3 linked regions of the Homo sapiens genome follow. The protein of the gene in region 3 interacts with the protein of the main gene of each other region in a pairwise test. Each region holds a gene or a part of one and is shown on either strand. Other genes may lie near its edges.

Evidence for each region.
Region 1: the proteins of HPCAL4 (region 3) and SCMH1 interact in binary tests that used the Homo sapiens proteins (3 or more experiments, as listed by UniProt).
Region 2: the proteins of HPCAL4 (region 3) and TRPM5 interact in binary tests that used the Homo sapiens proteins (3 or more experiments, as listed by UniProt).

Annotation. Positions count from the first base shown.
Region 1 is NC_000001.11:41,046,707-41,050,454, reverse strand, and holds part of SCMH1 (polycomb protein SCMH1), read left to right. Parts: intron 1-1,564; coding exon 1,565-1,765; intron 1,766-3,748. UniProt on the Homo sapiens protein: Associates with Polycomb group (PcG) multiprotein complexes; the complex class is required to maintain the transcriptionally repressive state of some genes.
Region 2 is NC_000011.10:2,416,865-2,420,612, reverse strand, and holds part of TRPM5 (transient receptor potential cation channel subfamily M member 5), read left to right. Parts: intron 1-207; coding exon 208-391; intron 392-2,021; coding exon 2,022-2,086; intron 2,087-2,254; coding exon 2,255-2,446; intron 2,447-2,783; coding exon 2,784-2,886; intron 2,887-3,433; exon of another isoform or gene 3,434-3,748. UniProt on the Homo sapiens protein: Monovalent cation-selective ion channel activated by intracellular Ca(2+) in a voltage- and temperature-dependent manner. Mediates the transport of Na(+), K(+) and Cs(+) ions equally well.
Region 3 is NC_000001.11:39,678,063-39,681,496, reverse strand, and holds the end of HPCAL4 (hippocalcin-like protein 4), read left to right. Parts: 3' UTR 1-2,849; downstream 2,850-3,434. UniProt on the Homo sapiens protein: May be involved in the calcium-dependent regulation of rhodopsin phosphorylation.

The sequences.
Region 1 (3,748 bases), 1.4 Mb from region 3:
CTCAGTCACTTCATTTTTCAGGTGGTGAACCTGAGACCCAAGGAGAACAACAGTCCATCCACGGGCCACACAATTACTGCTCTTATCTTTTCTACCTTTAATAGCAAAGAGACTTTTGCCCTTCTACCCCTTCAGCTAGTGAGCCACAACCACACAAGAAAGAATAGTACCCGCTACTCAAATGGGAAGCTGGAAAGCAGATGGAGGAGAAAATGTCATTGCTGACCAGGTTGCTGTGGGTCCTGAGGAGAGAACAACTCCAGAGACAACTCTGTTAGGACTGCCTCGGTCTCCTGTGCCCACTGCACCCCTTCCCCACTGCAGTGCCAGGTGGAGGCCAGTAGCTAGGAGAGTGCTTAGCCGTCTTGGGACCCTCAAGCTCTTTTCACTTTTTTTTTTTTTAAAGACGGAGTCTCTGTCATCCAGGCTGGAGTGCAGTGGCGCGATTACAGCTCACTGCAGCCTTGAACTCCTGGGCTCAAGCAGTTCTCCCACCTCAGCCTCCCAAGTAGCTGGGAACACAGGCACATGCCACCACACCTAGCAAATTTTCTGTAGAGATGTGGTCTCACTGTATTGCCCAGGCTGGTCTCAAACTCCTGGCTTTAAGTGATCCTTCCGCCTCAGCCTCACAAAGTGCTGTGATTACAGATGTGAGCCACTGCACCCAATTTTTTTTTTTTTTTTTGAGACCAATTCTCACTCTGTCCCCCAGGCTGGCGTGCAGTGGCGCAATCTCGGCTCACTGCAAGCTCCACCTTCCAGGTTCAAGCGATTCTCCTGCCTCAGCCTCCCGAGTAGCTGGGATTACAGGCGCCCACCACCATGCCCGGCTATTTTTTTTTTTTAATAGAGACGGGGTTTCACCTCTTCACCAGGCTGATCTCGAACTCCTGACCTCGTGATCCACCTGCCTCAGCCTCCCAAAGTGCTGGGATTACAGGCGTGAGCCACCACGCCCAGCCCAACTTTTTTTTTTTTAATCCAATTTTTTTTAAAATTTTTATTATATTCTTTGGGCATGAGTGTTGATGTAGAAGATAACAAAGGGACCCTAAGGCCCAAAACAGAAAGCAAGGCAAATGATCAATGGTGCAACTATTCTAAATCCAATGACATACATACACACACACACACACACACATATGCCCTTGCTAATATTGCCATTGCCCCACAGTGCCTTACACATATATGGTAAGAGGTACAAAGAATATGTGAGGCAACCAAGTACAAAAAAATGGAAGTACGTACAAGAGGGGAATTGTCTAGATTTTCTTTTCAGTGCACAGAAGACAAAGTGCAAACTCTGTGTCTTGGCCTTTGGTCTGGGCCACTCTTCCAGTCTTCCCACAGACTTTGATCATGCAGTTTGGGTTGGCAGTAGCTGGGCACAGCCTTTTCTTGACCCTCCACCCTCTACCTCCCACAGCATTTCACCAGCTCAGCTGCTAGGAATTCTGTTAGGAACCAGAGGCCAAGGTATAAAAGATGGAATAGGATGCTGTTCTCTGACTTCTCTATCCCAGAGACTCTTGAAGCTTCTTTGATTCTTTGTCTCCCATAGTTTGTATCTACTTGAACAAGAATGGCAGCACAGGCCCCCACTTAGATAAGAAGAAGGTCCAGCAACTCCCTGACCATTTTGGACCAGCCCGTGCCTCTGTGGTGTTGCAGCAGGCTGTCCAGGCCTGTATCGACTGTGCTTATCACCAGAAAACCGTCTTCAGCTTCCTCAAGCAAGGCCATGGTGGTGAGGTTATCTCAGGTAAGCACACTTTGGCTCATATTGCCTCCCAGCCAGAAGGACCCACCTTCTCAACTGGTTGATTTCTTGTAAGGCATCCTGGTTCCCACTTCATACCTGCAGGCTCTGGAAAAATGTGAAGGTATTCCATTCCTCATCTCCAACCCCCCAAGAGCCCCTCTGAGCCTTATGCATACCTCTGCCAAGGAGAATACCCACAGATTCTGCTTCAGTGAGCCTCTAAACTGATTCCCCCCATCTACCTGATTGACCTGTCCGTACAGAAAGTATAGGAGAAAGAATCCAGAGGGGGCTATGTTGTGGCAGCAGGAGGGTTTCTCCAGACTGTTGCAGCCTCCCACCTGGTTTCAGGAACCACTGAACTCCTCTATCATTCCTTTGATTCCTTAGCTTCCTCGTCCTAAACCAGGCCCAGAAGAAGAGAATTAAATCCCAGGGTGGTTGGGAAAAGTCATTTCCTTTTTCTTTACTGCTATGAGAGTTTGATTCAGTGACACAGTGTTTTTTGCTCTCACAGAATACTCATTTTTTCTCCTGTGTCCTGATTCTGTTTCAGTTTTCCTAAATCCAAAATCCTGTTTAGCCACTAAACCTATGAAGACTTGACCTAGAGCCTTTCAGTCTTAACTGATGCTATTCCATATTCCCCTGCCCCTCCTCCCTAGCAGGTTGTAATAACCAGCTTCAGGAAACCCCGCTGGCATGGAAGACTCCATAAATAACCAGACTGTATTATTTTAGCAAACATTTATTGAACCCTTACTATGTGTCAGGTGATTGCCAGACACTGGTCAGGAGAAGGGGAGAATAGAAGATGACAGCTTAGGCTCCATACCAGTGAAAAAGAAAGAATATACATAGCTAACTGTGAGAAGTGCTGTAATAGGGAAATGTATACAGAGTGGTGTGGGAACCCAGACTAGGGAGTACTTGGCTGTGAGGAGGATGGAGCAGACAGGCAGGGAATTTTTATAGAAGACTAGGAATTGGCCAGGTGCGGTGGCTCACACCTGTAATCCCAGCACTTTGGGAGGCTGAGGTGGGCGGATCACCTGAGGTCAGGAGTTGAAGACCAGCCTGGCCAACATGGCAAAACCCTGTCTCTACTAAAAAAAAATACAAAACATTAGCCAGGCATGGTGGTGCACGCCTGTAGTCCCAGATACTCGGGAGGCTGAGGCAAGAGAATTGCTTGAACCTGGGAGGCGGAGGTTGCAGTGAGCTGAGATCGTGCCATTGCACCCCAGCCTGGGTGACAGAGCAAGACTCCGTCTCAAAAAAAAAAAAAAAAAAAAAAGACTGGGAAGTGCCTGGGAAATTAAGCCTTATGTCCCTTCTGAGGCCCAGCCTACTCCCTGGTCTCTTCTTTGTTTCTGTGTAATGGTCTGTAGGAACCTGGCCTTCTTTACTGCCTCTCTTTAGCTGCTCTCCTATACCCTCTCTGGGGTTCTTCTCCTGCCTCAAAACTGGTTCTTGAGAATGACCTATCTCCCCAAATCCCCATGTCCTTGCTGCCCTCAGAGACAAATACACAGGTCTTTGCTTTTTAAGGTTTATACTGATACATTTTTATAGAAAAAGATGATAGGAAGTAAACTAACACCAAGCATGAAACAGTTCCAAATGTTGCCAAAATTCTAGTGCCCTTATGTAGATCAGAAATTGTGTACCCATACCATTGCTGGCTATGGCTATATTCTACTCTTCTGCCAAGCTTCTCTGTTCTTGGGCAGTTCTTGTGAAAATAGCACCCTAAATGAGCAGATTTCCTGGGGGAGGTCCAACCAAGTGATGGAGCAGAGAGAATTATGTTCACAGTTGTTTTCACAAGTTGAATAAAATCATTCCAGAGCCCAGGGTGCAACAGACCTGGCCTGGCCACTCCCATATTTGCAAGCCCTTTACAGTTGGAGGCAAAAATCAAAGCCCTCGAGGGAGGGAGTTAAAGGGAGGGAGGGAGGAAACGTGGGGCACTGATTCCCT
Region 2 (3,748 bases), on a different chromosome or scaffold from region 3:
CCTGCCCCTGACTGTCGAAGGAGGGTCCCCGGGCCCCAGCTGTTCGTCCCTCCTTTTGTCTGAAGGGTGGGGAAACCAAGGCTCGGGCAGAAGCCTTGTGCGGGGCCCCATGGCGTGGTGTGCACGGCCTGGCAGGGAGGATCCCGCAGCGGGACCAGCCCAAGCTGCCTCTCGAGGGCTCAGCCTCGTCTCCCTGCATGGGCGCAGGAGGATTTTCCTGTCCACTACCCTGAGGATGACGGCGGCAGCCAGGGCCCCCTCTGTTCACTGGACAGCAACCTCTCCCACTTCATCCTGGTGGAGCCAGGCCCCCCGGGGAAGGGCGATGGGCTGACGGAGCTGCGGCTGAGGCTGGAGAAGCACATCTCGGAGCAGAGGGCGGGCTACGGGGGTGAGACCCGCCCCAGCCACCCAGGGAAGCCTTGGGACCCAGTGGGGATCCAGGGACCCGCCTGTGGGAGAGTGGGGGTGACCGCCAGGGAGAAGGGGGAGGGCTTCCCAGGCAGAACGCACCCCGCATGCCTGAGCACCGAGACCTGGGCCGTGGGGGCCTGGGCCGTGGGGGCCTGGGAGGAGGAGCTGTCTGGGCAGAGTGGTGAAGGAGGCACAGCTGGACAGAGTGGCTCTGACTGGACAGTGACATTCCCACCAGAGCAGGTGCAGTTCTGTTTTCACTGGGCCTTGCCGTGGTCAGAGGCTCCGGGACTCTAAGAGGCAAAATGAGATCGTGAGTTGAAAGAGGGCTACTTCCCGCCGCCAGGCGTGAGGTATGCTGCCGCCAGAGGGCAGCGTCACCCGAGAAATGGGCACCTCTGGCCAGTCGCACGTTCAAAAGCTGGACTTACTAAGAAAACGCTAGTGTGTAAATAATATTCATAAACAAAGCATATAATTATTTATAACATCTATGAACAATATACAATATTTAGAAACAGAATTGTAATTTCTTGGCAAGGCCAACTGAGCCCTCTGTTTTTTTTTTTTTTTTTTGAGGCAGAATCTCACTCTGTCCCCCATCCCCCAGGCTGGAGTGCAGGAGTGCAATCTCGGCTCACTGCAGCCTCCACCTCCCAGGTTCCAACAATTCTCCTGCCTCAGCCTCCCGGGTAGCTGGGATTATAGGCATGTGCCACCATGCCCGGCTCTTTTTTTTTTTTTTTTTTTCCCAGTAGAGACGGGGTTGCACCATGTTGGCCAGGCTGGTCTTGAACTCCTGATCTCAGGTGATCTGCCTGCTTTGGCCTCCCAAAGTGCTGGGATTACAGGCATGAGCCACTGTGCCCGGTCAACTGAGCACTCTTTAGAATTGAAAACACAAAGTCTCGTCAAACTCTAGGGACACAGGCGGAGGGTCTGGCTCTGCTCTGCGGAAGCCCTGCTGGCCCGGGCACCGTTTGGCCAGGCCTGATTTATCCTCCAGATTCAATCAGGAGGCACCTTTCAAAGTCAGGGGCCCGCCTGCGAGCCCAGTTCCCTGTGGGTGATTCTAAGGCACCTCCAGGCAGTTCACTCCCTCACAGAAGACAGGGGCAGGTCCAGGCCTCTCTGGGGGCTTCACATATAGACATCTCATTTCCAGCTTCTGTTTGGGGGAGAAACCTGAAGACTCCCTCCTGTACCTCTTCAGTTTGCTGAGTGGTCAGGCGCAGCCCACCCAGCAGAGCTCCCTCGATGGTCGAGATGCTGCCTCTGCCATGCTCAGCATGAGCGCGTGCAGTGTGGCAGTGCACCTGTAGGGCTGGGTGCTCCGTTTCTTCCACGTCACTTTGTGTTTTAACAGCCATATGCCAGCTGTTGCCACAAAGTGCGCGTGCTGGGTAGTGTAGGTTAGCATTGGAGCCCTCGGCCCTCATATGGCAGGGGCTGTAATAAGCAGCCTGTGTCACGTGGCCCAGACGAAGCCCACACTTTATTCGGAAGAGCCAGCTTTTGGCCAGAAAATGTGGTGGCCTGAGAGCCTGAGATCCGGGTGGTCACCCCAGGCGGAGGGTCCTCAGGCCTCACGGGTGCCCTGTCCACAGGCACTGGCAGCATCGAGATCCCTGTCCTCTGCTTGCTGGTCAATGGTGATCCCAACACCTTGGAGGTAGGGGCCTGGCTGAGGCCCCCTGGCTGGCCGAAGCCTTGTGGAGGGGTGCGGTGGGTTCTGGGCACCCCTGGGACAGGGCTGAAGGGATGGGGGCACCCCTGACACCTGCATCCAGATGTCGTCGGGCTAATCTGGGGTCCGCTCTCCCCTCCCTCCCCGTCTCAGAGGATCTCCAGGGCCGTGGAGCAGGCTGCCCCGTGGCTGATCCTGGTAGGCTCGGGGGGCATCGCCGATGTGCTTGCTGCCCTAGTGAACCAGCCCCACCTCCTGGTGCCCAAGGTGGCCGAGAAGCAGTTTAAGGAGAAGTTCCCCAGCAAGCATTTCTCTTGGGAGGACATCGTGCGCTGGACCAAGCTGGTATGTGCTGCCCCCTCCCCTGTCCTCCCGACCCCTCCTCCGGGGGTGGGGCTGGTCCTCTGGGAGAGTTCCTGCAATGCAGCCTCCAGCCCACTCCTCCCACCTCAGGCTGCTGGGCCCCCCACCCACTCTCGCTTCAGGCCCACAGGGAGCAGAGAGACCCAGGCAGCCCCTTGGTCTGCGGGTGGTCCCAGGCCGGGCCCGGTGGGCGGTGGGCATGCAGGCTGCAAGGCTCACCTGGGGACGCTGCCTGTGCCTACGCTGGTGTCTACCACGGCCTGCCTCTGCCCCCGTCCTGGCTGAGGCGGCCCCATGGGGGCTCTGTTCTGGTGCCCAGCTGCAGAACATCACCTCACACCAGCACCTGCTCACCGTGTATGACTTCGAGCAGGAGGGCTCCGAGGAGCTGGACACGGTCATCCTGAAGGCGCTGGTGAAAGGTGAGGGCGGGCAGGGTGGGCAAGGCAGGCGCCATTGGGGGGCTTCATGCTCAGAGCCGCTTTGGGGTTTGGCAGCCTGGCCAATGTTTGTGACGCTCGGCCGCCTGCCCCTTCCCAGGAAAGATGACACATGATTCATGAAGCTGTCTGTATTTGGCAAGTTTTATGACGTGTTTTTTACCACAACTTAAAACTATACTTAAAGCTCTCAATTCAGTGGTATTTTTTTGGTGGGGGGGTTGTTTTTTGTTTGTTTTGGTTTTCGGTTTTTTGAGACGGAGTCTCGCACTGTCGCCCAGGCTGGAGTGCAGTGCTGCGATCTCGGCTCACTGCAAGCTCCACCTCCCGAGTTGAAGTGATTCTCCTGCCTCAGCCTTCCAAGTAGCTGGGATTACAGGTGCACCCCACCATGCCCGGCTAATTTTGTTTTTGTATTTTTAGTAGAGACGGGGTTTCACCGTGTTAGCCAGGATGGTCTCGATCTCCTGACCTCGTGATCCGCCTGCCTCGGCCTCCCAAAGTGCTGAGGTTACAGGCGTGAGCCACCGCACTAGCCAATTCAGTGGTTTTTAGTATATTCGTGAGGTGGGGCGACCATCACTTTTATCTAATTCCAGAAGCCTTCATCGCCCCAGAAAGAGCCCATACCCCTTGGCACTCACTCCCCATTTCCCCCAGCCCCTGGGAACCATCGATCTGCTTCCTGTCTCTATAGATTTGCTGACGGGCATTTCGTGTCCATGGTTCCCTGCAGGCAGCGGGAGGGTTTGACGGTTCCTCCGTGTTGAAGCGTATGCCATTCCATGCTTCATTCCTTTTGTAAGGCGGAGTCAGGTTCCAGCCTGTGGACAGACCGTGGTTG
Region 3 (3,434 bases):
AATTCAACAAGCAACTTTCTGCTACATACTTACTCCGGTTGGGTGCTGACTTCAGGGACAGGAAAAAGCAAGGTTTGCAAAGAGTGAAACTAGTGTATATTCCGTATCTTGGTAGTTCGTTTCTGGATTGGGTTTAGTTTCAGAACTGGACTTGTTCCTTCACTGCCACAGAATCAGAAAGAGCTAGAAGAAAAGGCTCACCTGGCCACTGTTTAGGCACCCAGACATAATTTATGGACGAAATGCCTAAAAATGTGCCAGGCATGCTCTGTTTGAGAGGCTTTTTCTAACCCCAAATCTTAGATCTGCCAGGTAGTTCAACATCTTCCAAGTGTGCTGGTTCTGCTTTCCAATGCCTGCTTCCCAATTTTGGATCCATGAGCTATACAGCTGCATGCTTTGACTGCCGGAAAAATTAATCTTGCTTCTTCATCAGGTCTTTCTCCTGTACTTGTGATCAGAAATTACCTTTGACGTGCAGTGACAGTTGATTTCCTCTTGAACTGCCGGTGAAAACAGTCTAGTACACAGGTGCTGTCAGCCCAGGGTGGGAGCAGGAAATGATTGCTGAGCCCGGGGCAGGGGAATTGCATCTGCAGGAAAGAGATGCAGCATGCTCCTCACTCCTGAGTGCCCACCTGTCCTGCTTCTCTGCAGGTGAAAACTCTGGGGGATGCTGATCAATAGAGCTTGGTCCCAAGCTCTACTGGGCCCTTGGAGGTAGCAAGGCCACTGGGTTGCTATCCTCTTGCTGGGGATAGCAACCACTGGTTTGCAACCACTGGGTTGCTATCCTTTTGCTATCCTCTTGCTCATGACCAGCCATATGGTGAGGCTGGGGAGTTCACATCCTCAGGCAGGAACTAGCAGTTGTTTATCCAGCAATGCCTCAAGGATGTTGCATTGCTCCCAGGAACTGGCTATTAGGTATGTCTTGTGCGGTCAGTCAGCATCACAGACACATAGATGCTCACCAGCCTGGCTTAGCTGGGACCTAAATCTTCTGGTGAAAAGCTTTTCACTAAGTGAGGTTCCTTCCCTGCAAATGCTGAATCTAGCCTAATTCGCAACCACACAGAATTTCATGGCTTTCAAAGGCTTGCCATGTGCCCCATCTCATTCTATACTCACATCCCATGGAGGTGAGGATTTTCACTTCTTTTCTCTAGACTTGGAAGCTGAGATTCAGAGAGGAAGCATCCCTTGTGCAAGATCACATAGTCAGGAGGTGACACAGGGCTAAGACTTGAACCAAGGCTCTAAGAGGATTTCTTCTTTTCAGAGTCTCTTCCCTGTCCATTTCTGTGACTAAGCTGTGCAGAGGTTGACAGCAGGGCAAGTTACATTGATATTCATCCTTTATAGGCTTCCTGCTAAAAAGCTTCTGAGATTGTGGTCTTCCAAAAAAAATAGGAGCTTGGTTGAAGTCCCCACATTTTCAAGCACTCAGTGTTCTGCCTCTGGCAGCTGTGCTAACAGCTCAGTGCTGTCCTGGGAGTCCTCTGACTCAGAACCCTCGAAGCATCCTGCATTGTCTTTACCCACCATCATCTTCACTAAGAGAAACATGCCTACCCATGAAGGCGTGTTTGATTACTCCAGGCTTCTGGACACACATACCCATGGGTGATTTTTGCTCCTCAGGCCCAATATTCTCAGACAGCCCAGCAGTGTGAACACACAATGCCAGGCCAGGAACTGGGACCACCATCTTGCTGATGGAAGGAACAACAGGTGGCCCAGGACATGCTCCTGCATACTCCTGGGTGTCCCAGGGACTGTGTGCTCAGGAGCACTGTGGTAGAGCACTGGCCCTGCCTTGAGAAGAGACACAGGTCTCCCGTCCCTGCACCAGCTGAGAGAGACTTGCCGCAAAGCACAAGGCTGGCAGAGATTTATGTATGACTTGCACAGACACAAAAATATACAGACAATCAAAACATTGATATATTCAAACTCTCCTTTAAATTCCAATCTTATTGCAACAACTCTGTGAATTGCAAGGTCCCAGAATCTGCCTTCTCACATACTCTACCCTCATTCATCCTTTTGGGCTAATTGATGAGCATCTTATTTCTTATCTCTAAAAATTATCAGCAAAGGCTACTTCAGATGGCCACTTTAGTCCTTTCAGCTGTAGTCAGGATTATTTAACTTACCTGTATATCAAAAGTGAAGAAAAAGTTAGTTCATAAGTAAAGGCACTAAATCCTTTCCTGACAATGGCAGAGTCTCTAGAGGTAGAAATTTGCCTTGCTGCAGAGAGAGAAGGAATGGCGTGGGATGGGGGAAAGAAAAGAAAGAGAAGAAGCTGGGGTCTCCAGGCAGGGTAGTAAGCTGACACTAAATATTTTTTACACAAAAATGTATTGAAGCAACAAATATTTCCTGAAGATCCACCCTGGGTGAGGCTTTGAGCTGACTTTAGAGATCACTGTGGGGTCAAGAATGTCTTACATGTTTTATTCATCATTCTTGAAAAAAGAAATAATTCAAACCTTGGAATTAAAAAGTCAGAAAAATATGGGATTTTCTTTCTGGAATTTTCGAGGTTTTCTTTTTACCTTTGCCAGAGTGTGGGGGCAGGACTGGGCCTGCCAGGGTGTATAGCCCTTCCTGCTTGGTGGAGGCCAGTCAGGCCCAGGGCCTTCTAAGCAGCAGTAGAAAGGAGGCTTGGGGAAGTGGGGGGTCTGGGTAGCAGGGGAAGGAGGCCAGTTCCAGTGTAGCCCCCTATCCCCTCCAGATGTGCTGCTTCTGGCTGTGCACTCAGTGACTGCCCTCACTGCTCAACCCTGTGCTGTGTGGTGTGTTTCTTTCCCCACTGACAGTGAATAAAAGGTGCAACTGTGCTGAGGGCTCCTGCTCTTCCCTACACTGGGACAGGATTGGGGTGGGGAGAAAGGGACAGAAGAGGCCTGGGGAGGCTCACTCAGTGAAGGGCCAAGGTCCTTGTTCTAGCAAGGACTCTGGGAACATGGCATGAGACTCACTTGAGCTAGTTCAAAGAAATGGGGGAGCAGATTATAAGGGACTCTGAAGATGGAAAATCAAGAATGACTGAACCTCAGGCCAAGCGCAGAGGCTCACACCTGTAATCCCAGTACTTTGGGAGGCCAAGGGGCAGATCACAAGGTCGAGATCGAGACCATCCTGGCCAACATACTAATAATACAAAAATTAGCTGGGCATGGTGGTGCACGCCTATAGTCCCAGCTATTCGGGAGGCTGAGGCAGGAAAATTGCTTGAACCCAGGAGGCTGAGGTTGCAGTGAGCAGCGGAGGTTGCAGTGAGCCGAGATCGCACCACTGCACTCCAGCCTGGTGACAGAGCAAGACTCCATCTCAAAAAAAATAAAAAAATAAAAATAAAAATAAAATAAAAACTGGCTGAACCTCAAGAGAACTGGAACTGGCAACTGGGCCTCTTCCTTACC